Homo sapiens: one gene and its partners. The protein of the gene in region 2 purifies or fractionates together with the protein of the main gene of each other region. This does not show direct contact. Each region holds a gene or a part of one and is shown on either strand. Other genes may lie near its edges.

What was found.
Region 1: the proteins of WSB1 (region 2) and HRG purify together in Homo sapiens (affinity purification with mass spectrometry, with the first as the bait; one large-scale study listed by BioGRID). This does not show direct contact.
Region 3: the proteins of WSB1 (region 2) and BTBD10 purify together in Homo sapiens (affinity purification with mass spectrometry, with the first as the bait; one large-scale study listed by BioGRID). This does not show direct contact.
Region 4: the proteins of WSB1 (region 2) and FRYL purify together in Homo sapiens (affinity purification with mass spectrometry, with the first as the bait; one large-scale study listed by BioGRID). This does not show direct contact.
Region 5: the proteins of WSB1 (region 2) and ARG1 purify together in Homo sapiens (affinity purification with mass spectrometry, with the first as the bait; one large-scale study listed by BioGRID). This does not show direct contact.
Region 6: the proteins of WSB1 (region 2) and COPG2 purify together in Homo sapiens (affinity purification with mass spectrometry, with the first as the bait; one large-scale study listed by BioGRID). This does not show direct contact.
Region 7: the proteins of WSB1 (region 2) and PNPLA6 purify together in Homo sapiens (affinity purification with mass spectrometry, with the first as the bait; one large-scale study listed by BioGRID). This does not show direct contact.

What each region holds. Positions count from the first base shown.
Region 1 is NC_000003.12:186,675,723-186,679,049, forward strand, and holds the end of HRG (histidine-rich glycoprotein precursor), read left to right. Parts: intron 1-1,300; coding exon of another isoform or gene 1,301-1,324; coding exon 1,325-2,161; 3' UTR 2,162-2,512; downstream 2,513-3,327. UniProt on the Homo sapiens protein: Plasma glycoprotein that binds a number of ligands such as heme, heparin, heparan sulfate, thrombospondin, plasminogen, and divalent metal ions. Binds heparin and heparin/glycosaminoglycans in a zinc-dependent manner.
Region 2 is NC_000017.11:27,307,358-27,311,463, reverse strand, and holds part of WSB1 (WD repeat and SOCS box-containing protein 1), read right to left. Parts: intron 3,721-4,106; exon of another isoform or gene 2,365-3,720; coding exon 2,192-2,364; intron 1,404-2,191; coding exon 1,290-1,403; intron 1-1,289. UniProt on the Homo sapiens protein: Probable substrate-recognition component of a SCF-like ECS (Elongin-Cullin-SOCS-box protein) E3 ubiquitin ligase complex which mediates the ubiquitination and subsequent proteasomal degradation of target proteins.
Region 3 is NC_000011.10:13,460,093-13,464,786, forward strand, and holds the start of BTBD10 (BTB/POZ domain-containing protein 10), read right to left. Parts: upstream 3,131-4,694; 5' UTR 3,000-3,130; intron 2,898-2,999; exon of another isoform or gene 2,530-2,897; intron 1-2,529. UniProt on the Homo sapiens protein: Plays a major role as an activator of AKT family members by inhibiting PPP2CA-mediated dephosphorylation, thereby keeping AKTs activated. Plays a role in preventing motor neuronal death and accelerating the growth of pancreatic beta cells.
Region 4 is NC_000004.12:48,542,439-48,546,544, forward strand, and holds part of FRYL (protein furry homolog-like), read right to left. Parts: intron 3,834-4,106; coding exon 3,629-3,833; intron 2,467-3,628; coding exon 2,345-2,466; intron 1,560-2,344; coding exon 1,369-1,559; intron 1-1,368. UniProt on the Homo sapiens protein: Plays a key role in maintaining the integrity of polarized cell extensions during morphogenesis, regulates the actin cytoskeleton and plays a key role in patterning sensory neuron dendritic fields by promoting avoidance between homologous dendrites as well as by limiting dendritic branching.
Region 5 is NC_000006.12:131,571,221-131,576,064, reverse strand, and holds the start of ARG1 (arginase-1), read right to left. Parts: upstream 2,840-4,844; 5' UTR 2,783-2,839; coding exon 2,726-2,782; intron 2,100-2,725; exon of another isoform or gene 1,773-2,099; coding exon of another isoform or gene 1,770-1,772; intron 1-1,769. UniProt on the Homo sapiens protein: Key element of the urea cycle converting L-arginine to urea and L-ornithine, which is further metabolized into metabolites proline and polyamides that drive collagen synthesis and bioenergetic pathways critical for cell proliferation, respectively; the urea cycle takes place primarily in the liver and, to a lesser extent, in the kidneys.
Region 6 is NC_000007.14:130,505,512-130,509,123, reverse strand, and holds the end of COPG2 (coatomer subunit gamma-2), read left to right. Parts: intron 1-464; coding exon 465-562; intron 563-1,300; coding exon 1,301-1,439; intron 1,440-1,751; coding exon 1,752-1,850; intron 1,851-2,317; coding exon 2,318-2,448; 3' UTR 2,449-2,886; downstream 2,887-3,612. UniProt on the Homo sapiens protein: The coatomer is a cytosolic protein complex that binds to dilysine motifs and reversibly associates with Golgi non-clathrin-coated vesicles, which further mediate biosynthetic protein transport from the ER, via the Golgi up to the trans Golgi network.
Region 7 is NC_000019.10:7,534,191-7,538,808, reverse strand, and holds the start of PNPLA6 (patatin-like phospholipase domain-containing protein 6), read right to left. Parts: upstream 3,093-4,618; 5' UTR 3,021-3,092; coding exon 2,789-3,020; intron 2,619-2,788; coding exon 2,536-2,618; intron 2,361-2,535; coding exon 2,263-2,360; intron 1-2,262. UniProt on the Homo sapiens protein: Phospholipase B that deacylates intracellular phosphatidylcholine (PtdCho), generating glycerophosphocholine (GroPtdCho). This deacylation occurs at both sn-2 and sn-1 positions of PtdCho.

The DNA of each region.
Region 1 (3,327 bases), on a different chromosome or scaffold from region 2:
TTTTTTACATGAGTACAAAGATTTGCTTCACGAAATTTTTCATATCAGAAACAAAACTTAAAATAATCCAAACATCCAATCCCAAGTTAAAAAAAAGAAAAAGGAACAAAGGGCAGGATTGTCACCATGAACATGGCTCTGTCTTTTTTTTTTTTTTTTTTTTTGAGAAGGAGTTTTGCTCTTATTGCCCAGGCTGGAATACAATGGTGCCATCTCGGCTCACCACAACCTCTGCCTCCTGGGTTCAAGCGATTCTCCTGCCTCAGCCTCCTGAGTAGCTAGGATTACAGGCATGCGCCACCATACCTGGCTAATTTTGCATTTTTAGTAGAGAAGGGGTTTCTCCATGTTGGTCAGGTTGGTCTCAAACTCCTGACCTTAGGTGATCCACCTGCCTCAGCCTCCCAAAGTTCTGGGATTACAGACATGAGCCACCGTGCCCGGCCTCTGTAGCTATTTTTTAAAAAATTAAACTCTGAACAAGGAAGAGAGAGAAGAGGTCAAGTGTTCAGCCTTTAGGAGTAAGGGATGTTGATACCATCAAGCCTCAGTTAAGAATATCAGTTATAAGGCACTAGTTTTCCAGTGTTGGTCTACAGATGGGTGCCAGGTCATAATATTGTTTCACCACTCTGTGTAGTAAAAATGAAAAAAAAATAAGGATAATGAAGTTTTTTATATCTAACATTTATCCATCTAAAGGACAATCCTTTACTCTGATATTGTGTTTCTGGCTCTTTCTTTTTTTTTTAAATCAAAATTTCATTCCAGGCTGGGCATGGTGGCTCATGCCTGTAATCCCAGCACTTTGGGAAGCTGAGATGGGTGGATTACTTGAAACAAGGAGTTCAACATGGTGAAACCTGTCTCTACTAAAAATACAAAAATTAGGAGTCTGGGCAACAGAGTAAGACTATGTCTCAAAAAAAGAAAAAAAAAAATTAGGTGGGCATGGTGGCTTGGGCGTGTAGTCCCAGCTACTTGGGAGGCTGAGGCAGGAGAATTGCTTGAACCTGAGAGGTGGATGTTGCAATGAGCAGAGATCGCACCACTGCACTCCAGACTGGGTGACAGAGCGAGACTCAGTCTCAGAAAAAAAAAATAGTTTCTTTTGTGAAACAATGATGGTGGTAAATGATAGTTATTGTTAATATTTTAAATATCAACTGGGCTAGATAACAATTTGAGAATCTTTTTTCGTAATACTTTTTAAATTGATTTGTGGAATCTATGATCTGGGAGCCATTGGTGTAAATCAAGTCAAGTATCTAACATCTTCTTTTATGTTACATGATGATAGGCACTTTTCTGTGACCTTTTCCAGGAACATGAGAACATCAATGGTGTACCGCCTCATTTGGGACATCCCTTCCACTGGGGTGGGCATGAGCGTTCTTCTACCACCAAGCCTCCATTCAAGCCCCATGGATCTAGAGATCATCATCATCCCCACAAGCCACACGAACATGGACCCCCACCTCCTCCAGATGAAAGAGATCACTCACATGGACCCCCACTTCCACAAGGCCCTCCTCCACTATTGCCCATGTCCTGCTCAAGTTGTCAACATGCCACTTTTGGCACAAATGGGGCCCAAAGACATTCTCATAATAATAATTCCAGTGACCTCCATCCCCATAAGCATCATTCCCATGAACAGCATCCCCACGGACACCATCCCCATGCACACCATCCTCATGAACATGATACCCATAGACAGCATCCCCATGGACACCACCCCCATGGACACCATCCTCATGGACACCACCCCCATGGACACCATCCCCATGGACACCATCCCCACTGCCATGATTTCCAAGACTATGGACCTTGTGACCCACCACCCCATAACCAAGGTCACTGTTGCCATGGCCACGGCCCACCACCTGGGCACTTAAGAAGGCGAGGCCCAGGTAAAGGACCCCGTCCCTTCCATTGCAGACAAATTGGATCTGTGTACCGACTCCCTCCTCTAAGAAAAGGTGAGGTGCTGCCACTTCCTGAGGCCAATTTTCCCAGCTTCCCATTGCCGCACCACAAACATCCTCTAAAGCCAGACAATCAGCCCTTTCCTCAATCAGTCTCTGAATCATGTCCAGGGAAGTTCAAGAGTGGGTTTCCACAAGTTTCCATGTTTTTTACACATACATTTCCAAAATAAAATGTGATTCCTTTGAAGAGGAAAATGAATAATACATTGAATTAGAAACATAAATAAAATGACCAGTAATTGTGAAAATTACAGTTCTTTTCAACCTACTTTCATACTGAAGATGCAGCAAAATGTGAATGGGAAAAGAGATGGCCTGAGAAGAGAGATCAAATGGAAAGGAGAGGAAAGAACTCAGTGCTGCCTATTAGTAGTTAATTCTGTCACTCACCACTACATCACTTGAGACAAATCTATGCCACTCAGAATCTCCTTCTTTCCTGGACTTAACTCTAATTCTAGAGTCTCTGTTACTGCTTGGGCTATACCTGGGCATACTAATAAAGTATGGTATTGAAACTATTGTTATCATTTATTTCATTTTATTTTCTAAGTTCCAGGGCACATGTGCAGGGTGTGCAGGTTTGTTATATAGGTAAAAGCATGCCATGGTGCTTTGCTGCACCTATCAACCCATCACCTAGGTATTAAGCCCAGCATGCTCTAGTTCTTTTTCCGAATGCTCTCCTGCTTCCCACCCTCCCCCTATTTATTATTATTAAAGTGACCTAAATTCTCTCCTCGTGATTATTACTAGGCATCTAAATTTTCTTTTGGAAAAATAAGTTCTAAATTCAGTATTGAAGCAAACAAACCTCTGGCTATAAATTGCAAAGAAGCTTGCTAACATGAATCATGACCATAAATTCAGGTGCATAAGAAATGTCACTTTATGCTCAGAACAAATTAATTTCTATTTGAGGATGCCATCCTACTGGCTTAGTGGAAATTTAACCCCAGTCCTTCTTGGAGTCCCCTTTCCCTGCCCTGCTACTTTCCACACAAAGTTGGGCCACAGTTCTAGGATCTCACACCATGCCAAGCTGTCCAGGTGGTAGGAAGCAGGATAGTGACTATCCCTCAGCCAGGGTGACTGTTGGACCAATGATCATCATCATGAGTGATAGCCATCCTGCTCAGGGATAGTCACAACCCTGTTCACATCACTCTTTCAGTCTGATTTATCTGCTACTTCTGTAGAAAACTGGGGGTGCAGGAATGTCTGTACACTAGCCATGGACATGACTGCCAAGGTATGGCATATGGCTGCTCTCTCCCTGGGATCTTGCTGTCTTCCCAGCTGCATGCCCAGAAAGCAGGGCAGAGATCTCCTCTGC
Region 2 (4,106 bases):
TAAAAGCAACTTTTTTAAAATTTAGAAAGAAATGCCATTGAGTTATGAGTCACAAAATACACACATCACACCAACAGGCAATTATAATAACTTGCTTTATACAATTACAAAATATTTTAAGGTCTATAATATCAGTTGGTAAATTGGATAAACTTTCACTTAAGAGACTACAATGCATGGCTGCCTTCCCTCCTTCCCAGTGTTCAAACCTAGAATGTTCACACCCGGAAACTTTCTCCTTACTTTCCTACACTTACAATACAATCAACTTCTAGTCTGTTTCACCCTTTTCCCAAGACATTTTTAAAAGCTAGGTGGGCCTGGTAGCTCACAACCATAATCCCACCACTTTGGGAGGCCGAGGTGGGTGGACTGCTTGAGCCCAGGACTTTTAAGACCAGCCTGGGCAACATAGGGAGACCCTGTCTCTACAAAAAATTTTTTAAAAAAACTAGCCAGGTGTGGTGGTATACCCCTGTGGTGTGAGATACTCGGAAGGCTGAGGTGGGAGGATCACCTGAGCCCAGAAAATCAAGGCTGTGGTGAGATGTGATTGCACCACTGCACTATAGCCTGGGCAACAAAGCAAGACCCTGTCTCCAATAAACAAACAAAAAAAACCAGGAAAGGAAAAAAAGCTTTTCACCCAGGCTGAGTGTGTCTACAAATACAGCAGAGAACTAACATGCAGAATCTATCTGAGCAAACAGGAAACAATGGTTGCAGACAAACAAACAAAAAAAACCTCTCTCCATATGTTTGCTAACATTCTGGGAAGAGAAGAGCTGCCTTATGAATTGACGTCACCGAACTACTCAATGCTATATGCATGAACACAGATGGTTGCAACTAGTTTCTGCTTCTTACCAACAAGCAGCACATATCATTCATGTGACATTTCATATTCTAATCTCAATCATGGTGGATACAAATTACTATTTATTTGTAATTCTTTTGGTTTTACTATTTGTTTCACTTTAGAAATTTCCTTCTGCTTCAACCTTTGTTAAGACATTACTTTAAAAAATCTCTGTAAGCTGGGCTAAAAGCTGACTAAAAATCAACCCACTATGCCTAAACAAGTTAAACAAGGAACACAGGGAGAGGCATGCATTATCTTTAGTTTACACAGATAATTGTTCAGGCCGATATTCTTTAAGACACAACAAAATCTCCCAGGGGCTTGTGTTGAGGAAGAGACATTAAAACTCTTAACTGCAGAAAGGCTTTAAGGCTTAAGAATGTAAAAGGTAATAGTAAGTCAGTCAAGCTATAATGCACATACTTACTTATCATCAGCAAGGCTTGCAACATGCAGTCCATCATGGCTAAAAGATACAGATCGTACCCACCGGTCATTTGCTCCTCCAGCAAATATTGGAGTAGGTGGGGGAAACAGGTGCCTGAGGTCAAATATATGTTTTCAGTGGATATCAGTCACTTCAAGAAAACAAAATTACCCAGGTACAAAGTACATCTGTCTTTGAATAGTGTTTAAAGTAGCCTTAATTAATATAACTGAGAAGACTCAGTAGAGATGATACATCCAAATTAAAGTCACCTGAAAAGAACTAATCTTTTATGGTCGGGCGCAGTGGCTCATGCCTGTAATCCCAGCACTTTGGGAGGTTAAGGCAGGTGGATCACGAGATCAAGAGATTGAGACCAGCCTGACCAACATGGTGAAACCCCATCTCTACTAAAAATACAAAAATTAGCCAGGGGTGGTTGCAGGTGCCTGTAAGCCCAGCTACTCAGGAGGCTGAGGCAGGAGAACTGCTTGAACCCAGGAGGTGGAGGTTGCAGTGAGCTGAGATTGCGCCACTGCACTCCAGCCTGGCGACAGAGCAAGACTCTGTCAAAAAAAAAAAAAATCTTTTATGATTTAAGACAGTAAGATTAAGTCCAACTTTGGTTTTAACTGTTTTTCTCCAACAAAAACTCTAAACATAATTAGTACTTCTATAGAGAGCTGGGTACTGTTAAGTAGCAAGACTTGTATCAAGAGAGCCAAATTTACTTTTAGAATTTATATCGAAGGCTTTCCATTAGTCAAGGGCTTAAATAATACCAACATTTTAAATTAGAATAGACTGTAATTTTAGGTTGCATATATTGGTGATTGTAATTATTCACATAACTTGATAGGTGGAGATGAATTATAGACTAAAATAATTCATGCTGTACCCACCCAAATTCCATCAGAATGTCTCCATTATGTGGATCCCAGATATATACTCGAGTATCATAAGATGCAGTAGCCAGTAATGCTCCATCAGGAGAAAAGTCACAAGCTACCACATCATGGTGATGTCCTTCTAGTTTCCGTATCATGGTGTATTTATCCATATTCCAAAGGAAAACCTGCAATAAAAAGGCAAATGTTATAGCTTCATTCAGACATACAGAGGACAAAATGGCACATCTTATACTAAAACTGCTAAATTTAATTAAGATTATATTAAGCATTATAAATTATGAGTAATTTAAAGAATATGCTCAGTGTCATAGTCAGATTAAAATCAGTCTTTAAGTTAATTAAGGCAGACATGCAAATTCTATTTCAAATGTTTCTGTTAAATGTTAATTTAAAAATAAGCCTAAACATAAAATAAAGGCAATGCAATTTAACCACAAAGCTATACTGAAATCCATTTATTCCAAAAACTAATTAACTAAAATATACGGAAATAAATAGGGTTAAGTACTACAAACCCCCTTCTCTTTTTTTTCCAGAAACTACCAGATTTTTAAAAAAATATACAGACAGAAAACGTAAGGTTAACAAATTGTTACTCCATTGGCATCTCCCTTTGAGATAATCACTTGTTTACAATAGGCTTGGGTCACCAACTTGAGCCTAGGAAGAGAAACAGATACTGCAAGCAAATAGAATATTCACAGCCAAATGAAATTTCTTTGGCAAACAACAAGGATGTTAAACCACATTACAAAATGAAAATGCTATTTTATGAAAATAATACAATTACATTTCAATAAATCAAAATTTAACCATCTTATTTTTCCCAAACTAACCACGATCATAAGTCATTTGAATATAAAACGGTTCAATTATTTAAGAATAAGTTCATATACAATTTTAGATTCTAAAGATCAGTAGTTAACTGTGCAGAATAGCTCTAAACAGGATTCTAATGTTTACTTCAGTCTGTTATATTAAATGTGAGCTTGGAGGTTTATCCTAAGACAATCTCTCCTCTTGGAGTAAAGCAATCCTTTTTGGTTTTTTTTTTTTCTGCACAGACACAATACATTATTTCTAAAAGAAAATAAGTACAAATTTTAAATTGAATCAAAGACGTAAGATATCTCTGGAATCTGAAAGAATTCCAAAAAATAGCACAGAGAAACCATTTGAAAGCCAAATACTTTACATTAAATTGGTTTCACTTGTCAGACTCCCAATTCCATAAAACTGGAAAATCAATTTACTCAGGAGTCAGTGTATTTTACTGTGGGGGAAATTACTTTAAAAAAGAAAAAAAGAAAGAAAGAAAAGCAGAAAGTGGACATCGACCAGCACCTGTGTACGTACAGTACACCTTGCAGCCGAATGCAAGGTTACTTCATCCTATGGTAAAGGTCGCCCCCAGCCCGGTAGCCAGAGATGCCACTCTTTCTGCCCAGCTAACACCATTGTGCGCCTGTGTGCGAGTGGTGCCAGCATAACCTCAATCACACCAATATTGCTGCCACCACCTGTGACAGGGAAAGCAAGAAGCATATGGAAAACACACAGCCTAAAATAGCAATGTCAACATCTAATTTTGTTCTTCTTATGATTTGTAAAGAACTAAACTGAGTATCTTGCTTTAAACTTCCAACATTTATAACTATCATTTTAACATACTCCTTGGGTAAATAAAATGCATTTCAACTAGCCTCCCACCCTCCATTAATTCAAAGTGTATTGTAATTATCACATGTATTTGGACTTCAACCATTTTATAAATACTTGAAGCTACTGAGATCAATTTAACTATACTAACAGAGCTGGTAAACAACTACAAGAGTTCATCAATAAGCATAACCCTCTTAACAGTCACTTTACTTAAGCTGTCTATAGGTATGCTATGTAAGACAAA
Region 3 (4,694 bases), on a different chromosome or scaffold from region 2:
AGGCAGAGATTGAATGAACAGATATTAGCCTAGCTTGGCCTGAGATGACTGAGCTAAAATGAAGAAAAGAAAATCTGCAAATTCCCATAGCAGTCCTGATTAAAAACCAGTATTCTATGTAGTCTCTGCACAAGTTATGATAAATTTAGCCACAAAAGGCAGACCTCTTTTTAAAACTGCACAATACACAAATGGGTACTTAATCATTTCATCTTCCTTTTCAAAATTCTCTCCCTTACCTAACTTCCTCTCTCACCCTTATCCCAAGTGAAGACCCCCAACTTGCCCTCTATATGCCTAAAAAACACCTCTTACTTAGCTTTGACCTCTAGCACTCCCATTCCCCATAACCCAACTAGGTATGAATCAGATTATGTGATTAAATTACTTCACATTAATGGGTAAATGAGGCTTAATCCACAAAGGTCAATTCCACACGTCATTAAACTCTACTATGTATAAGGCACTAAGTTTAATCAATTAATATACCTATCCTTCTTACAAGAAAAACTAACACAAATCAATCTTTTAATGAACAATGTAAGGAAGGGGCACAAGAGTGTTTGCTTCACATCACACTTTCTCCACCCAGTTCTTTCCATCCTGTTGCCAAACCCCTCCAATCTCCATCTGGCATGGAATAAAATCCAAGGGATCAGTATTTCTTCCAGTAAGTCAATGCCTAGGAAGACAATGTGGGATAGCACAGCAAACAATAAACATTCAAATCCTGAAATGGACTGTAGAGGGTCTCTTGTATTTAATTTTATATATTAGCTGCAAATACAATAAAGAGCTTCTAAATAATTCAATTTCTGTACAAGATACCTATAAATCAGCTTTGCTCAGAACTCTGAGTTTTTAAACCATAAATACTGAGATGCTTTTTCTTCAGTTATTTCCACAGTTAAAACGTTTATAGTAAATACCAGTTCAAATTGCCCTACTATAACTATACTTAAAGGCTATTAAACTTAACTACTGTTTTCAATTAGATGTGACATTTTTCCCAAGACCCCTTAAGTTTGAAACTCCAAACTTGCTTTAAACCTCCTTTTTTTCCAGTCATAAAATTTATTAATTTTGATTTATAACAGAGCTTCTAAACTGGAGAGGAGAATACAACTATGGACAGGTTTGGATTTGATTCAGTCACATGATATTTTTAATGGTTTTAATTAGTTGTCAATATTTTTAAGACGCAAGACACTGAATGCAAAAATCTAGATTTCCGAGTTCTCTTGAGAATGCTGAAGATGGGGTCCATATTCTTATATAGCACTGATTAGGGGGACCTGAGACTTGGATGTCTCTCTGATAAGGCATAGTGCATTTCCCTCATTTTCATTATCTAACTAGTACCCGAAGGCATGTGAGTTTGTTGCTCATGCTATGGCTTTGAAAGGTGCACAATATTTTCCATATCACTTCCATACTTCCCTAAGTCACCTATTATAAAAAGCCAAAAGCAGACCACAGTGGTTTGCAACTCCATAGTTAATAATTTAAAAAATTCACATGGCTTAGAGGGAGTGAGAAAGAAGAAAATTCAGACTGGTGGAAGGGTAACATAATTACATAGGGTTAGAAGTCTATCTGAAAGCTTTTCTGGGAGTGAGAAAAAAGGTGAACGAACACAAAAACATTGTTGAAACACTAAAAGCTTTCCTGATTGAACACTGTTACTCTCTGGTGGTTCCTTACCACATTCCATGCTTCAGAAACTTCCTTCCTACTTTGTATGTATTAATATAATAGCTGTTAGGTCATACACGCTGAGAAATATTGGGAAAATTTATAAAACACATTTACATCATCAGAAATAATTCTTCTCACACTTTTTTTTTTTTTTTTTTTACCAGTCTTGGTCCACTTTCAAATCCCTTCCCAAGTATTTTCTACTGCTTTCCGCTTTATATTCAAATGACAACTGCAGTCCTGGGTTTCAGGACTGAACTTCAATCCTGGACAGGCTCTCTAATACAGAAACTCTTTTGGCCGTTATGGCTGCATTCTTTATTATATCTCTTATTCCGATTTCCACAGTCTCTTTCATTGAAAATTTATCCCTAACCCCCTCTCTAAAAGATTTTGATCAAATTTGTGTAGTTGGGGGGTTGGGAGGATAGGGGCGGGAAGGAACTCAGTTGTCCAAATACAATTAATATCCTGTGCTGTTTCATTTAGATTGCTAATTTAAATAAAAAGCATGAAAACTCTGCAAGATAATAAATCTTCGTAAAATAATCTTGTTTACTAAGTGCACAAAGCCACAAGCAAGTGAAGCTCTATCTTTCAGCATGTCTGGACTAGTGACTTTTCATCATGGACTCAGAATACTGAGAAAGGAGAAGCAGGAAATCTGTGAGGCCCAGGGACAGTCACACTGGCCCACACTAACAAATTACTAACCGATGTCTCACCTTCCCCCGCCCCATTCCCAAAGATAAGGGTGTCAGGGCACCTGCATCTGAAGAAGAAAGACATCAGAACCTTTTCCGTGCAAGTTTTAAGAAAACAAAGCTTTACCACACGTAAAATGGTTACAACATAAAACCACGCAGCACGTTAGTGGGGTCTCACTCCTCTTCACCCAGAGGGAGGCTGCCCACCACCTTATCCCCTATTGTGATGCGCCTTCCTCAGGATGTCGCTGCGTTCGTCTGAGATGACAGGAAAGGGGCGGGGCACGGGGTTCCTCTGCCCTGGAAAGGGATGAGGGTATCGCCTTCATCCCCGGAGAAAGGCCCCCGGACTCCCAACCCAAAAGCAGCAGCCGCAAAACTCAAGTCTTATCCCGGCCTCTCCTAATTGGGTGCTCGTGGCCGGAGCCCAAAACGCCACCCACGGTACCCGAGCAGGGTCCGGCCGCCCAGACCACCGCCGCAGCAGCCTGGCTCTCACGCCCAGATTCGCCCTCCGCCCCTTTCCTCTTTCGCCCCGGCCAAGCCCAGCCTCCCGCGCCGCCCCCGCCGAGTTCCCCAGCTGAGTCCACTCACTCTCGAACCTGTAGTCCCCCTTCAGTGCCCACACAAGATTGGGGCAAAGGCCGGGGCCAGTGACACCTCCACTTCCTCCTCAGCCAGATCCCTCCGGAGGTGGCTGTGGAGGAAGCCACTGAGGCGGCTGCGCGTAGCGGAGCCGCCCCGGCAGGTTGCAGGCCGGCTCCTCAGCCTCTTACCGCGAGAGCTCACAATGCGAAGAGGCGAGGCCAGCAGCGTTCTCGCGAGAACGGTGCTCTCCGCCCAGGGGTGGGCGGGGCACCGAAGGAGAAGGCAGTTGAGGGCGCGGCGGCCACGGGTGGGATCTCAGGCGCGTGGAGAGGAAGGCGCCGCGCGACCTCTCCTCACAGACATCAGCTCGGGTCAACCGCGGGCCTCGAGCCCGAGTGGCTGAGGGCTGTTACCTTCAAACCTTTGAATCCCACGTTTTCCCCTTGACTTCCTGTCACCGTTAGAGAAAAGTGGACAGCGTCTCGGTCACAGAGTTGGAGAAATAGTGCAGGGACTCTTCAGGGAGAGCGTTTTCCTCATCAAAGCAAACTGCAAAATCGCTTCTGCCGGCGTGGACCTGATGAGAGTCGGTCGTCGTGAGGGACACCCTCTGTTCCCTAACGTCCCCCGCTGCTTATTTTTAAACGCTCGGTTGGCGGGAACCCCTGTGCCAGCTGAAACTCCTTCAGTTTGGCCGCCTAGGAAACACCGAGAGTCACCTACATGGGCTGGCTGGGCAATAAAAACGGGAAAAAATGTAAAAGACACAGTCTCCGCCTTCGAAGCTTACACCCCCGGGGCAAGACCTACAGGAAAATAGATAATCCCATTATTCTCTGATAAAAGCCGAGCTGCTTGCCATGAGCTCTGGGAGCAGACGGGGAGGCCTTGTTGAGAAAGCCTTCACCTGGGAGTGACAATTGCGCTGAATCTTAAGCATAAGTAAGTTCTCCAGTTTAGGGAAGAGAGGGAAGGGCATTGCAAGGAGAGGAAGCAAAGAGGAAGAGGACCTGGTTTGAGTAATTGGGTATGAAAACAGATATTGCAGCAAGAACTTTGTTGAAAAACCTTTAACCACTGTTTAGTTCGGATGAGAACATTCCCAGGCTCCTACGTGTGATACGCAAAGTATTTTCCAAATCAGTGTTTATGCTAAGAAGATGAGCAGTTGAGCTGGACAATTATAAGATAACTTCATCTTTCTCCTGTAAGGACACTTAAATATCAGAAACCTAAGAGAAACGGGTTATTGTCGTAATTCACTAAGTTATTATAGCCAACATTTTGCTAAATTGGAAATTGCCAATAATTTCAAGTTGTCTACATAAGAGCAATCTAATAGGAATTTTGTGATACAGTTTCTCAGAGAAACTCTGAGAAAATTCTCAGGCAAAAAACAAAAACGTCATCAGTCCTGATTTATTATCAAAATTTTCTCCTATAAGCTCTGCTCAGAAGAAGTCATTCTGTAGTCCAAGTTAGGGCTAATGAGGAGCCATACTCTTACATCAAAATAGAAGCTGTCCTTTTCTAAAGAAAGACTCTGGTATTTTGCTGTAGTTTCCACTCACCTTCCTTTGGACACATTATTTTCATATTACATATAAAAATATGTATACTATATGAAAAATACTATGTATACTATAGTTTTATTTGGCTTACCATACTCTCCCTACGAATAAGCCCAACACTTAGGAGGAA
Region 4 (4,106 bases), on a different chromosome or scaffold from region 2:
CGTAGTCTTGCTCTATTGCCCAGGCTGGAGTGCAGTGGTGCAATCTTGGCTCAATGCAACCTCTGCCTCCCGGATTCAAGTGATTCTCCTGCCTCAGCCTCCCGAGTAGCTGGGACTACAGGCATGCGCCTGCACACCTAGCTAATTTTTGTATTTTTAGTAGAGACAGATTTCGCCATGTTGGCCAGGGTGGTCTCGAACTCTTGATCTCAGGTGATCCACCCGTTTCAGCCTCCCAAAGTGCTGGGATTATAGGTGTGAGCCACAGTGCCTGGCTGAAAATATCACTTTTAAAATACACATTAAAAATCTGACCACTTTCCTCTACCTCCATAACTTCCCTTAATCTAAGCTACCACCATTTCAGCTGGACTCTTAACCTCCTGCCCTCTCTTGCCTCCACTCTTGCCCTCCCTACAGATTTCACCCCAATGTCAGAATGAGTTTTTTAAAAAAGAAATCACATCCATCACCTTCCTTCCCTCAAAATGTCTGAGTAGTTTCCCATCAATTCAGAGTGAAGTCCTGCCTCTTACCAGGGCTTACTAGGCCTTACGTGATTTGAACCTACCTACCTCATCAATTTCCTGCAACACATCCTGCAATGTATTCTAGCGACACCAATTTTCTTGATGTTCCTCAGAAAAGCCCTACTGCTTCTGCCTCAGGACCTTTGCACCTGTTAGTCCTATTTTCCTATGCCTGAAATATTCTTCCCCAGATCATAAACAGAACCTACTTCATTTCAGTATCTCTTCAAAAATCACCTTCTCAGATGGATTATCATATGTAAAACAATTCCTTCTCCTTTAATCTTATTATCTTATTATATTCACAGCATTATCAGTAGGATAAATTATGTTATGTATAATTGGAAGACTAAAGGTTTGTTTCCCTCAATAGAATATGAGCTCTAGAATGTTAGGAACTTTGTCTCATTGATCACTGTATCCCTGATATTTATAACAGCGTTAATAAAGTCATTCATCTGTACAAACTGAAGTTCTCTAGTGCAACAGTTCATTTATCTTAAAGCATAAAATTCAATGCTCCACTTTACATTTAAATTTAACTTCCTATCTTTTTTACCTTGTGATCATCCCAGGTTAAGATCTTGGGGGTGGGGTGTTGTGTGAGTGGGCGAGTGTAAAGCTTTTTCTGATAGGCACTAGAATAGTTGATTTAATTAGTAGGTTATTTGATATTAATTACAAAACTAACTTTGTCTCTTAATTCTTTGCCTGCTCAACATCTGACTATAATTCTAGATGCCCATTATCTTGCTCTAGCTATAGCAATCTATATGGACAATAAATCCTTGACAACTAGTAGCTGCTCAATAACTGCTGAAAGAATATAAGGAAATACCTGTGCATCTTCTCCTGGATCCCCTACAGTTTCTACAAGTCTGGAGAGAACATCAGAAAGTGTAGTTGCAGTGAGAGGCTGCTTTAGGGCCCTGAAAATCTGAAAGGATCTCCCAGCATAGTGTCGAGAAGAACAGGAAAGTGCTGTTTGCAGAGCAACTTCACTAAGATGATGTTCCAGATGAATTCCTTCTGTGAATGCAAAGGAAACGAGTAGGTTGTTCTTGTTCTTTAGAATACTAATGGGGTTATAATCAGAAGTGAATCATCTTAAAGCTAGCAGCTAGCACACTTCCTGGCTCTCACATTTTATAAGTCAATGCTTTTTCTTTGCTTAAACTCCATTTGCATTTTAGATGACCCTTTAATCTTTACGGAAGCAATCCTTCAGACCAGGGTTTCTCAACCTTGGCACTACTGACCTTATAAGCCAGAAAATTCTTTGCTGGAAGGGCTGCCCTGAGCAGGGTATGATGTTTAGCAGTGTCTCTGGCCTCAACCCACCAGATACCAGTAGTAACCCCTTGCCCCCAACCCATAACGGTGACACTGTCTCTAGACATTGCCAAATGTCCCCTAGTTGAGAACCACTGCTCTAGACATATACAATTTGACTATGATTTTCAGAATGTGTTGAATTTTAGATTACTGAAGACTATACCAGCACAATTTTTTTTAAGTTTCCAATTTCTATATACGTCCGTTTAATGTATTTTTTCATAATACGCAATTGTATTGTAATTTTATGATGCCATCAAACACAAAACTAAGGAGCCTAGCATTTCATAGATAGCACTCATTTTTAAGTAGTAACTTAATTTTTCTTCAGTGAAAACAGATCTGTTATCATTAATAAATTAAAAGTCTAAAACTTTTAGAGGTATCACAATATCAACTATTAACTTTTTGCTAAGCATTATCAGAAATTGACATCACATTAAAATGTCACTAAAACTAAAATATTTCTTAAAAGATACCTGAGCTTGACTGCTTAAAAACAGAAACCACATGTTTCAAAAATGTAGTTAACTGTTCAGCACTCTTTATGCTAGGATTCTTGGCAGAAACATCCTCATGGTTCCAAAGGGGCCCTCTTTTTCTGAAAACAGAGAACAGATGTAATTTCCTTGGATTTTCACTTGTGATTAACAGTTGTACTCACACTTGCCTAAATTACACCTTTACAATTAGAAAGGATGGTAGTTGAATAAATAGGTCACAGTCTACTACTACTTAGGCACATGAATATGTAATGATCTACAGCAAGGAGAGAAAGATCTCATTTCAGTGTCTAGCAACAGACCAGTCAAATTCTCTCAGACGTAGTAGAAAAAGATGCCAAATTTTGCCAAGTGTGAAGCATATTGGTTACTGCTTATGTGTTCCAGGTCAAAATATAATCTGTATTTAGATTGTAATGCAAAGAAAATAATTTGCTGGTGAAATGCAATGAGAATAATTTACTAGCTAAAACTACAGGGAAAGTTTAGGACAGAGTAATGTCCTCTTGATTCTTTCTTCAAAACGTCTTTGTGTTCTTGGCCACCACCTCAGTTAAGCTCTTTATTAACACAGGCCCAAAGTGCCCTGAGAACCTGCTACGCACTGCTTCTGGTTCCTTCCACCTCTAATGCATCCTACACGCTGTTATGGGGCTGATTTTCTCCACATACTTATTAAATGATGCCTCCCACCCTCCTCCCAGCTTAATGATTTTCAATATAATCTACAACCTTATGGCCTGGGCTTCATGGCCCGCCAGTTTGAACTCTCCCAAGCTTTCCATAATTGTCTAGAACAACTCTCTTTTCTCTGCATTACAGTCAGAGTGGATTCCTCACCATTTCCAAACACATGGTTTTCTTGTGCTCCTGTGATTTTGTTCTTGCAATGGAATACCATGCCCTTTCTCCCCACCTATATTCCCTCTCTACTTATTGTGTCTTGCAAAGAGTAGACCATAAATAAATATTTGATGACTGAATGATAATGTAGCTAATAAAAGTGAAATATATATTCAGATAATACTCATTCTCTTTGGCCATTAAATAGCCAGATATGATTAAAGTCCTGAGGTATAACTGCACTGGCACAAAAGAGTCTTTGATTGCATCCTAATTTTCAAAATACTGTGCAATACAAACCTGTGTATTTCACATCAATGGTATTTCAGACAACAAAAATATGGCTCATAATACCTGATCAATGAAAGAATGACTTAACACATACACTGCTGGGATGATAAGAGCTGCCAGTGTTACCTTGAGGTAATGAATTCCATGAGGGTTTTGACTTTTCCATCCTGCTCCACTGAGATGTCAACCTCATTGAGGATAGTGGTGTGCAGATGTGAAATGGCAGCACTGTTATTTCCTAAGCTGATACTAGAAGAGGTAGAACTTGAGCTAAGCCCTGAGTCAGTCATAGGGGAGGGCTGGTAATCAGGTATAAAATCGTTAATGCCTGCTGAAAGAGAAAGATCGTCATGAATACCTAAAACATGAAAGAATCTCACAAAATACCTATAGAATTAAACTGTTGTTCCTTAGACTCTATGGGACACATGAGGCAATCTGTCAGTGCAAGGTGATGTGAATCAGTGCTCCTGCTGATCCTCATGAACACCAAATTACAGCAAGTAAGTTTTGGGGCAAACATTGTTTCACAGCTTGAAAACTTAGCAATTTGGATGTACTATGCAGTCCTCTGCCGCCATCTGCTGAAGAAACTTGCAAGTGG
Region 5 (4,844 bases), on a different chromosome or scaffold from region 2:
AAGACAGAGTGATGGAGAAACTCTGCAAACCAAGGGAACGATTGGGCAAAAGCATCGAAAGAGTGTGACATGAAAGAGACCTACGTGCATGTACTCACATAAGTAAGCTAGAGCTCTTGGGGAGAAAGCAGGCAACAGAAAAAGTCATCATCTGGGAGCTGAAAACTACAAACAAAGACCAACCCAGTAATTTCAAGTTTTGGCCTGCTTAACAGTATGATGGGAAGTTCTACCCTTGCCGTTTTGACATTAGGGAAACTAACACTCTTCCTCCAAGGGGCAAGTCTTCCTCAGTCCCCTGAACAATTAGAGGTCTAAAGGCACAGTTCCTTTCTGTATCTTTCTGATTTTAATTTCCAACAGAGCTTTTAGATGCAGAAGATTATTACATGTTGTCAGATGAGACAATGTGTTAAAAGACACGTGTGTCTATCTTTAGGATTGGGGCTGTGGCATCAAAGTAAGCAAGTATTTTTTCCCCATTCAAAGGAACAGAAGACTTGCCCTGGGTGCCAGGCAAATCCTTGATGTTAAATTCCTGTCCCTGGCAGCAAGGGACCCGCCCTATCCTCTGCCTGACACATTTTGCTTCTTTACTCCCTTTTTGCTTGACACACCTGCCTCTCCCCAATCAAGTAAACATGATTTCTCCTTCTTTCAACCCCAATAGGGTGCTGCTTGGTTCATGTTTTGCCTTTAGTTTTGTGTCTGTTTTTGTCTTTTCCTCATTGTTAGATTTCAGTCCAGCTTGCTTTACATGTGGGGCACTATATTTTGTAGTGTAGAGCTGACATATAGTAGATACTCAATACTCAGTTTGATAAAACTCCTTGGCTTTTTTACCCTTCTCCCTTTCATATTTTAGAACAAAGCTCATAGACCCCTTAGTTGACACTATATTTGCTATAACACAGCCATTAAATTTTCTAGAATTCTTTTTTATTTGTTTTATTCAAATGGCTTCTCATGATTGGGCTTTCCTCTTGCTTGCTCTATCTGCCCACTTTGGAAATTGCTTTGTCAGCTCCACCGACTTTCTAAGCTGGGCCCAATCCCTAAATGGCCACAAGTATAAGGTCGCCTTTGGAGTTGAATAGTCTGAAGAGACATCAGTGCAAATCAAGGGCATAGGCATTGGAATCAGATTATCTTGTCTGGAATTATGCAGTCAAGGCTGTGTGACGTTGAGCACATTACCAAACCTCTCTGGGCTTTTTTTTAACCCAACTGTAAGGTAAAAATAATACCTACCTTATTGTTTGTTCGCTGCCTTGCAAGCCTTTCAAGGAGGTGAGACAGGGATGAAGCCCTTTCTCAGACTCAACATTTTAGTCATCTGCCCTCTAATCCTTTCCTTTTGCTTATTTGTCAAACTTGTACCTCCTTTAGGTGAGGACAAATACTTATATGTTGGCCATTTTATCCTCTCTACTCTATGACTTAGTGTAAAAAATCTCTCTCTCTTAGTCCTTACAATCATGAGACAATGAACTCCATTCTCATGACCATGTTTTAATGGGAGGAGGGTGGTAGAAGGAGGACACTTGCTTCCCTTTTGTGAGGTTTTTAAATTATATATTTATTATAACCTGTTCAAGAGTGGGTGAGAACAGTGTGGATTTTAAAAGGAACATTTCTGTGTCAGCAAAATGTCCCTGTGTTTGGGAGAGACTTTTGGAGGATTTCCAGGGGAAGCAAAGTAGTATTTACTGACAGTCCAAATGCAGTTTGGGCCTCTAACCTCTGGCCTCTCTCAATTTGTTTTGCAGTAAAAAGTCAGAGTACACAGCAAGGGTTCCAAATTAAGAGGAAGCAAAACGCTGCCCAGATCCTGAGAAACCTGGAGAAAATCAACCTTAGTAGTTTCAACTCATACATTGTCTTGTTTGATTTTGTTCTTTGTTTTTTATCCTCTTTAAGCACAGATGCGTGTTGAAGTCTAAGGTGTTCTGTCATCACACTCTCTTTACTAGAATAAGTGTGCCCAGGCAGAAAAAAAAGTGTATTCAATGTTGCTGGCATGTGTGGATTCACAGCTCGTGGCTGTAAGGAAATCTGGGGGTTTCATAAATCCATTAAAATCCTTTTAGAGTTGCCAACCCGCAGTAGGATTTTCTTTCTTTTTTTGTTCTTTTTTTCCCCTTCCAAGTGAGGCACATAAAGGATTCTACCTAGTCCATGAATGAACAGTTTCATAGAAACATTAAAACCCTAACATAACATGAATTATTCACAAAGTTGCATGAAACAATAATATTTAGGTTATCCAAATTATAAGAAGCCTGAAGGTTACCACCAAACTATTAAATTTTTCTAGGCATTAATTACATAACTAAACAAATGTATTTCTTAAAATTCTCTCTTCCTCTACATACACACAGTAACATCAAAAACAACAAGAGCAACTAAACCTCAATGAGTAGCTACAATGCAGAAAGAGTCCATTTCAATTCAAAGAAAAATATTTTCTCCTAAAAAATATGAGAAAACATTCTGTAGGTTCAAATGAATTTAGCCTTGGCTGAGATCACGAGCCACAAAAGTAAGTGGATATGTGACTATAATTATACAATGTTGGAAAATGGTGAGAGGACTTTAAAATATGCATTTCCTGGCCAGATTGTATCAGAAAACTGAACTAACTAGACAATAACACCTTACAAATTTTGAAGTCCAAAATTTTCAACTAAATTCCAGGAATTCAAAGAAAGACTTTTTTCCTTACCTGTCCCTTTGAGAAAGGAGCTCCAATAATCCCTATGGTTCTGGACTTGGCGCTCATGCTCTGACACTTCTCTTTGCTGCACTTGAGCTCTCCAGTCAGTCAACCCTCAGTGACAGAGGGCGCATCTTTTTTTTCCATTTATACTTGGGTTGAATAAACAACCTTTATCTAATGAGGACAGCTGGCTCCACCCACTAAACCAAAGAATGACAGTCAACAGTCTTGCAATTTTTCATACATGGAGTAACTATATGGTTACTCCATGTATGAAGTAACTATATGGGGTTACTTCATACATGGAGTAACCTAACTCTGAGTCTAGGTCTCTAATCAAGTGACAATTATTCATGTTCTCACTTCACACCCTTTTAAAAAGCCAGCCAGATGACATTAACCTGACTTCAACAACTGACAAGTTTCACAACTACAGAAGAAGTCCTATTGTTCTGGCTCAGCGAACTCAGGGCAAGGCCCTTTCCTCCTCCAGATCTCTGAAGACGTCCTTGTAGAAGAAGGGCCGGGCTTGGCAAGATCGTCTGTCACATCCCTTCCAGCCCTAAAATCCTGAGTTGAGATTTCACACATGAGGGTAAATGGTTAATCCATGAGACACATTTCATAAACTTTTAGGGTATAATATAATAAAGAGTATATAACTTCCTTTTTTGATGATTACTTTAAAAAATTAGTTACTTGATTGGTAACCCAGAGAGGTTACCATTTTTGAAGTATGGTGTACAGGAAAATAATTGTAGAATCATATCATAATCAAAGTATAGAAATAAAAATAGCTAACATTGAGTTTTTACCATGTGTCCGATGCAGTTCTGTTTCAAAATACCATATTTATATTTATACCAATTTTATGTGAAGTCTCATCATTGGTGCCATTATACTGATGAATAAACTGAAGCTCAGACCCGTTGCCAACATAGGCTGTAGAAGAAAAGTCGGGATTTAGTCTCTGCCATTCTGAATCCACTTAACCGTCGAGCTTATAGTCTAAATGCTGGGAAGGTGTCAACCTCTATGCCCCTGAGCTACCATTTGTCACCATACAAAAGTATGAATTTAAAATAAAGGCACCTTAAAGATCCTTCCGACTTTAAAATTATGTAATTGTAATTTAAAGGGAAAATTCACTTAGTAGAAACTAATTTCTTTTTCCTATTGGTGGGAAAGAACATTTTGGAATTTAAATTCCATGAGGTCAGAGAATTTTGTCTGCTGTATCCCCAGGGCCTAGAAGAGTGTTGGTGTATAATAGGCACTCAATAAATATTTATTGAATGGATAAATGAGGAAACCAAAGTCTCATGGGTCCATTTTGATAGGACTGTTTTCCAAATAGGTTTCCTACCTTTTTCTTGTGGGTTTGCTTGTATATCCTAAATATTTACTTGTGGTATTCCTCATATTGCCTAGATATTAACCTTATAGCATTGACATTGCAAATAACTTTTCCCAACCTGTCAGAAATCTGATAACTTTTTATATGTTATCACTCAAAATCCTCAATTTTAAAATAGACACTTGTATAATTTCCCCCGAATGCTTTGTGCTTTGGAAGTCTTATTAAATTCCTGCCACCCCATCAAATTGTAGGTATGTAGTTTTACATTTTCTTCCATTTGCCTTAGAGCTTATCTTTCTCACTTAGTTCCTGAATCCATCTTTGTATGTTATGTAAATTTTCCAACTCGTTTTTCCTCTATCATTCATGCATCAGTTTCCTCAACAACACCCATTGAATAGTCATTCATTTTGCAATTGATTGGAGTGCTGTCTGTCACTAAACTCTTTCTTCTGTTCCATTGACTTATTTACCTATGGCTGCACCAGATCCATCAGGTTTTATCAATACAGTTTTGCGGTACATCTTATCATTGTTTAGGCAAGAGTAACTGTTTTGCTCTTCTTTTTCAAAATTGATTTACCTTTTATGGGTCTCTATTCTCCTATAGTTGGAATAACCTAATTCCTTAAAAGTATTTGCTAGAATTTTTACTAGATTTATAAATCAATCCATGGAGATTTGCTAACTTTCAAATTTGATTGCTAGAATTTTTTCTTTGAAAAATTCACATCCTGAAAGTTCTTTGTATGCCAAGCTGAGATT
Region 6 (3,612 bases), on a different chromosome or scaffold from region 2:
CTAAAGATAGTATTGAGATGCTGATGAGATTGGTCAATGTTAATCTGATGATCTGTATGCTTTTTACCACAGGTTTTTTTTTTGTTTTTTTTTTTGGTCAGGTCCTACAGCAGTGGTTCTCAAAATATTTATTTTTCAACATTTAGGCCCCTTTGATAGGCATGGCAAAAAGCCCCCAAAAGTACCTCTCTGCTGCTTTCTTCATACCAATAGAGAAACAGTCTGCCCATGTTATCATTTCTGTACTGCTGTAACCCACAGCGTGGAATAGACTTTACATTCATGCTTTGTGAGACTGCCTTCCTGACCCGCTTGTAGGCTGCTTTTGAGAACCACTACCCCAGACAACAGGGCATGTGTGTTTAACTGGAAAATGTGGAACACAGTGCTGAGTACAGATGGAATGATGGAAACGTCTCCCTTGCACTCCCCACTGATGCAGGTTTGCCTCCCTTCTCCTCCAGTTGCAGGCTCCTTTAGCTGCACCATGAAGTTTACAGTCCGGGACTGTGACCCTAACACTGGAGTTCCAGATGAGGATGGGTATGATGATGAGTATGTGGTGAGTCTTCCCAGCATAGAGACTTTCTTTGACACCTTCACAACACTAAGTGACTTCTGCCTTGAGAGAACATTTTTCTAGGAGCATCTGACATAAACTTAAGGGATTTCTATTCTTCTGAAACAGATGACAAATTAGGAGGACCTGGACTAACCCTCCTCTGTAACTGGACAGCACCAGGCCAGAGAGAATTGAGATTTACCACTTCATCATTAAAACAAACTCACCCTTTTTTTTCTTTATAATAGGGATAATTAAGAGATGAAAATAATGACATGATTTTCATTGAGATCAGTTTTATTTAAAATGATTTGGGGAGGGGGTTGGTTTTGTTTTTTGGTTTTTTGTTTTTGCTTCAGCAGCTGTTAGTTTATAGCCAGATCATGGATTAAAAAGCCTTCACAGAATGGAGGGAAAACTTTTTTTAAAAAATATCAACCTCTTAGTGAATGATCAGAGGGTACCGTGTGCCCAGAACTCAGTGGTCAAGTGTGGGTGCAACATGACTACTCTGTACCTCAGGGCTACAGATGTTGATCTGAGGCTCTTGCCAGATGTTCTGTTTTCTTGCTTTCCTTTGCTAAGGGCTACAACATTAGATTTATCCAGACTACAGAACTTAAACTATTTTGGTGGTAGAGTTTTCTCTAGGCTCCGGAGGACCATATTGACTAGTTCCTTTATCTTTGCCCTATAACAGAAAGGACTTTTCTTTACTGACTGCTTATTACCCACTAGCTGGAAGATCTCGAAGTGACTGTGTCTGACCATATTCAGAAAGTACTGAAGCCTAACTTTGCTGCTGCTTGGGAAGAGGTGGGAGATACCTTTGAGAAAGAGGAAACCTTTGCCCTCAGTTCTACCAAAACCCTTGAAGGTGAGACCCATTTTGCTATCAGTATATTGCCTGATAACAGTATAACACCTAACAGGCATATTTGTTACTCCAGAAGAACTCCTTTAAAAAAAAAAAAACTTCATAAATCTCTTACTTAAAAGGCCAGCACCCTGTCTTCATCATCTAATTGATCAGCCATTTTCTAGTCCAGTAGTAGCCTCCCTCTACACATCACCAACAACCCCCTTCACCAACAAACCCTTCCACCCCAGCTCCCAGCATACACTGGTGCAGAGGGAGATCCCTGTGCTTTACTTTCCTAATACTGTCTCATACATCTTCTCAACACAGAGGCTGTCAACAATATCATCACATTTCTGGGCATGCAGCCATGTGAGAGGTCCGATAAAGTACCTGAGAACAAGAATTCCCATTCGCTCTATCTGGCAGGTAAGAAGCTTCCATCAGATTTTCCTTCCATTTTCTTGCAAAGCTTAATAATAGGATATAGATGGGCATCTTATGCCTTGCTGTTGTCCCATCATCCCATTATATGAGTAACAATTTGATACCCAGTCAAAATGAATAATTTGTTTTGCATGCTATTCTTGGTTATTCTTTTAAGATGTACATTTGGCCCAAAACAAATCTCTCCAACAGATACCAAGGCCACCACCAACATTCCTTTTGAGTACTCCAAATTGGTATTTTTGAATACCTTCTATGTACCTGGTTTCATGGGAATATAAAAATATATATATTTGGAATTTATGTTTGTTTAGGATTCAGTTTCCACAAGTCTCTGGAAAAGCTAAACTAAACTAATAGAAAGGAGATGCAGGGATAGCATGATAAATTTCATTATCCAGTGCTTGTTTTGGGTTCTTAATATGGTTTTCCTTACTTTTTTCTCTCAGGTATATTCAGAGGTGGCTATGATTTATTGGTGAGGTCCAGGCTGGCCTTAGCCGATGGAGTGACCATGCAGGTGACTGTCAGAAGTAAAGAGAGAACACCTGTAGATGTTATCTTAGCTTCTGTTGGATAAATGCTTACTGGACAAGAGGAAACTGATGCACACTACATGGTCAGTGGGCTTTTAGGCTAGTGGCATCAGTTTCCCAGAATCAGACTTTTGAAGATGAATGACTTTGGAGAAGCAAATTAAACATTTGGCCCTGAGCCAGCAGATCAAGCAAATGTCTATCTTTGCGCATGGGTTGTTTTTTTTTTTTTTTCTTTTTATTCTACTTGGTCAGCTTTGGGACGATAGTGCAGCTTTGGGTGATCTTGAAAATCAAATACTATCCTATACTCCAGCTGCTTAACTTCATTTTATTCTTTAATGTGTACCTGAAAGCTCCTGGCAATGCTGGAAAATTTTTATCCCAGAGGGGTGGGGGGGAGGGGGGAGGGGAAGCCAGAGTCCACTTTTGTCACAATTCATTTTTATTAATAGAAAATAAACACTTATTCCAGTTTCAAAGTTGTTATACTTGAAGTTGCTAATTTAAAAAAACGAATTTTAAATAATCACTTAATAATCCTGCTTTGACTAAGACAATGAAATGTGGCTTTAAAAAAAAAGTATTCAGCACCATTTGCTCATAGGTCTTTCAGAGTTTGTTCTTAAAGTTTCTGGAACTTTCCTGTCTGTAAAGTAACAGGAATTACTGAGCTACATTGGAAAGCCTCTCTGGGACAGGCAGTGGGGAGTTAAGCAGTCATCATAAAGGAATCAGTGTACATTCAGCATGGTGACTTGACTACACAACAATCCCTTCCCCTCTACTGTAGCTCAAGAGAGACATGCTTCTAACCACTGAGGTATGAGGAGTCTCAGACTGTTATTTGCTGTTAGAATTGGTCTTCCCAGCTAATAACAGTACATCTCTGGCACAGATGCTATTGGTCCTTAATGTCCTGTGATTTTAGGAAATAGTTTGGATTTAGTTCAATTTATTCAGAAACCAAATGTGTTTAATTAGCTTCACTACTCTGGCAGAGTAAGGGTATGCTGGTTTAGTATCTTTATAAAATATATATAATGTATAGGTAAATCATAGTCTTAAATCATACCTAAAATACTGTATCATTTAAACCAATATCTATTTTAACAAAATGTTTATAACTAAAAACAGCTGATGAAACACTAAATCCAAAGGTATGACAAAGAGGACTCAGCTCTGTGTTGCTTAAAGAACTTTTAAAA
Region 7 (4,618 bases), on a different chromosome or scaffold from region 2:
ATAGCTTCCAATATATGAGAAGACCGCAGATACAGTCTCTCTGTTCTACATAAACATTCCTGAGATAGACCTTCCTCCCAGTCTCAGAGAACCTTGAGACAGCCCCTCTGACAGCCACAGAGGTCCCTGAAGTAGCCCTCATTATAAGTGGAGAATCCAGATAGCCCCTCTGCTAATCGTGGACCTGGGAGAGCCCTTCCCCACAAGTCACAGTGATTGCTGAGAAAGACCCTCCGCTGGCAAAAGATCCCTGAGATAGACCTTGGAGGATGGGACCCTGAGTTAAACTCAGTGAAATCAAGAAATTCAGATATAATTCCTTTTTTGGCTGGGCGTGGTGGCTCATGCCTGTAATACCAGCACTTTGGGAGGCCGAGGTGGGAGGATTGCTTGAGGCCAGGAGTTCAAGACTAGCCCAGGCAACACAGTGAGACTCCCATCTCTACAAAAAAATTTAAAAATTAGCCAGGCATGGTGGTGCATGCCCATGGTCTCAGCTACTTAAGAGGCTGAGGCAGGAGAGATCTCTTGAGCCCAGGAGGTAAAGGCTGCAGTGAGCTGTGATTGTGCCACTGCACTCTAGCCTCAACAACAAAGTGTGATCCTGTCTCCAAAATAATAATAATAATTATAATTGTTATGATTATTCCTTTTTTGATCAGGGAGATCTTGGGCTAACTCTTCCCTAGGTCACAGAAAGCTCAGACAGCCCTCTGACAATCATGAAGATATCAGGGTAGTCCCTTAAGAGTGTGCAAACACTACAGACAGCTCCTGTGATGTGGAGAAACCTGAGGTATAGACCCTCAACTGATCATGGGGAACTTTGAGATAGTCCTTCTACTCAACTCACAGAAAGCCCTGCCATTGGCCGGGCTCAGTCGCTCATGCCTGTAATCCCAGCACTTTAGGAGGCCGAGGCGGACGGATCACAAGGTCAAGAGATCGAGACCATCCTGGCCAACATGGTGAAACCCCGTCTCTACTAAAAATGCAAAAATTAGCTGGGCATGGTGGTATGAGCCTGTAGTCCCAGCTACTCGGGAGGCTGAGGCAGGAGAATCTTTTGAACCGAGGAGGTGGAGGTTGCAGTGAGCCGAGATCGTGCCAGTGCACTCTAGCCTAGTGACAGAGCAAGACTCCATCTCAAAAACAAACAAACAAACAAACAAAAAAGAAAGGACTGCCATTGCAGGACTATTGATCATGGAGAGCCCTGCCCTGGTGTGAAGAAACCCTTGAGGCAGACCTCCAGGTAGACTACATGACGCACAGGGATCCCAGAGCCAGCACCCAACTTGCAAAGAGAGTTGGAGAGCCTTTCTCGCAGACCTTGCTGCCAACAGGGATCTCTGATGCATCCTTCCTATATTTCTAGTGCAAGAAAATTCATAAGATAGCCCCTAGGGAACAGAAACTCCTGAGACAGCCTCCTTAGTGTGGGAAGAACTTCAAGGTCCATAACATAGGAAAGATGCCTTCTGATGTACAGAGATGCCTGAGATAACCCCCGGAGAAGAGAGGCTGGAGGCTGGAGATAGCCCCTTTAGGAGATCGTAGAAACACAATTACCTCAGTGAGGTACCCTGGAAGAAAACCACTCATGTGAAGAGACTCATGAAATAACCTACATGGAAACCCCTGATGTAGACCCCCCCACTAAGTATATGGCAAGACCTCTGAGATATTGACTTGGGAACAAATAGCTCAGATACTCCAGTGGAAGGAGAAGGTCACTGAGGTAGCCCTCAGGGAAGAGATACCCTAGAGACAGCATGTCTGGTGTGGAAGAGCTCTGAGAGGAGAGTCCAGAGATGTCTCTCTGAAACAGGAAGACTTTCTTCTTCTTCTTCTTCTTTTTTTTTTTTTTTTTTTTTTTTTTGAGACAGAGTCTCACTCTATTGCCCAGGCTGGAGTGCAGTGGCATGATCTCAGCTCACTGCAACCTCCACCTCCCAGATTCAAGTGATTCTCCTGTCTCACCCTTCTGAGTAGCTGGGATTACAGGCCCATGCCACCACGCCCAGCTAATTTTTGTATTTTTAGTACAGATGAGGTTTGCCATGTTGGCCAGGCTGGCCTCAAACTCCTGATCTCAGGTGATCTGCCCGCCTTAGCCTCCCAAAGTGCTGGGAATTACAGGCATGAGCCACAGCGCGCAGCCAATATGGGAAGACTTCCACAACACTTTGGTGTAAGCTGATTACTCAAAAGGCCCCTGAGATAACCCCTAATACCAGGTCACACCCAGCACAGCCTTACTTCTTGGCAATGTTGAGCATCTTCAGTTTCTTCCTCATGCGTGGCCGGGAGGTGGCGGAGACAGAGGTATCCACGAGGGAGGAGGTGGATTGTGACACCTGGGAGAATGAAGGCGGAGATGGGTGAATTGCTAATTCAGACCTTGGAGAAGAGGCAGACGGATCCAGGGGGTCTCCATCAAGGAAGGAGCGGTGGCGGACACTAAGAAGTGTAAATAGGGAAGGGGCGCGGCCTCTGTGTGGTCAGGGCGGACCCCAGGGGTCCCGGACTCACCTTCCGCATAATCTTCCGGCCATAGAAGAGCACTTTGTCCCTCTTCCGGAACCGATACCGGGGGCCATCCGGGGCTGGGGTTTCTGGGGATAGGTGGGGACAGGGGCACTCCGAGCTCTGTGCAGACTCCACCCTGCCAGAGCTGGGGTACCGCGAACAGACGCCAGCAAATCCCCATCTCTGCCGCCTCGGGACCCGGGCATTTGGGCCCCCCACCATACAGCCTCCCAAGAGGGGCCCCTCGGGTGCTCACTTGGCACTCGCAGCCTCCGCACCACCAGGAGGATGAGCACGGCCGTGACCACCACCGCCACTCCGGCCCCGATCATCACGCCAAGCACCTGAGGGACGAACGGCACTGGCTGCGCACCGCAAATCCGTCCCGCCGAGCCTTCCCCGGGCGCCAGGACGTCCTGGAACCCATCCCTCTCCGCCACCTTCGCCCCCGAGGAGTTCGTAGCCAGCCCGTGACTCGATGTCCCCATCTGCAGAATGGGCCAGTGCTGCTCCCTCCCCGGGGGCGCGACTCTTCCCTGAGGCCCGGCGGCCCGCAGTGCATGCCGGGAAACGTAGTTCCGCCCGAGCGGACGCAGCGCGTTATCGCCAGACCACGTAATGCGCGCTGAGCACGCCGGGAGTTGTAGTCCTCTTGGCGCCCCACGCCGGCACCTACCCGGTCTCCGCCCCACCCCTTACCATTCCAGTTTGCAGCGGAGCCTCCATCGGTTGATTCCAGCTGGACGGCCGATCTGGTAGCCCGGAGTCCTGGGAAATCAAGGAGTCGAAGGAACCCGTGCAAGTCGTCAATCTGGGCCCACCTCTCCCCTGCCTCAAGCCCTGCCCCCAGCTCAAGCCCTGCCCTCTGGGGTGGCGGGGGAAGCGTCTCCAGCTGCCAGGGGCGAGGCTAGAGGGGCGCTGCGGGACTAAGGGATGGAGCAAACCGACCTCTCGGCCCTGGCCAGGAGATGAGGCGGGTCCCCGGCTTCCTGCTCCCTTCGCCTACGCGTAGGGCCTACCAGACGCCCGCCTGTCCAACCCCACCCCGGGGCCAAAGGCCGACCTGGTACCCACTGTCAGCAGCCTGCAGGCAGGTCCCCACAGGGCACGGTCCTCTGCACCTGGTGACTTCCTCCCGGGTCACTGCCCTCTGCAGGGTTGATCAAGCCTGACCACCCCACCCCCCAGGCCGCACCCCCTACTCCGTCGAAGACTGAATGCCCCACCCCAGGAAAACGGGCCCGCAAACCGTGGGGTCCGGGAGTGGGCACCTAGATACTCGGCTCCCGACGCAAGCCTGCCCCGGGGAAGACCCAGGAGCTGGGAGGCACGGGAGTACTGCCGGGGCATCCGCGGAAGGCGTCTGATACCCACGTTTCAGAAGAGTCCTGGGATGCTTGGGGTGGCGTGGGCTTGCAAGGCGCTGCTGGTTTTTGCCGGGGATTTACTATCACGTAGTAGTGAAGTTATGGGGGCTCTATGGCACAGAGCATCACTGGGACTCCGGGACCGATGGTGGCGCCATTGCTGGGAGGCGTAACCAGAGACGCTGGGATTAGTGGGTGGGGATGCGGGGTCACTGGAAAGTTACTGAGATTCTGAGGATTACAATACTACTGCTGGGAAAACCAGGAGGTGGGTGGGCACATTCCTGGGGTGCTTATGAGAGCGGGCCTGGGGAGGGCGTCCGGGCTCCTTGGAAGATACTGAGAGATGCTGGAATATTACTGGGATTTTTCTGGGAAGCTGAGGATGTTTCTGACATCGCTAGAATATTAATGGAAATTCGGGGGCCGGGAGATAGGAATCCCGGAGACTCCGAGTCGTTACTTGGAAAATTCCTGGGTGGCCGGTCCTCTTCCACCTCAGGGCACAGCTGGCTACCGGTGTGGAAACACCTGCCGAGACGTGGGGGGTATGGGAACATCAGAAAGTCTAGAGTTAACAGGAATCGGAGGACAGATCGTGGGAAAGCGGAGGCTCGCTAACGACCCTCGAAGGGACACCCCTGCGAGGCTAACGGAAACCCAGACTCACCCAGGGGCCGCAGCCGGGGTCCACTCCGCGCCAACACCGCTAGCGTTCC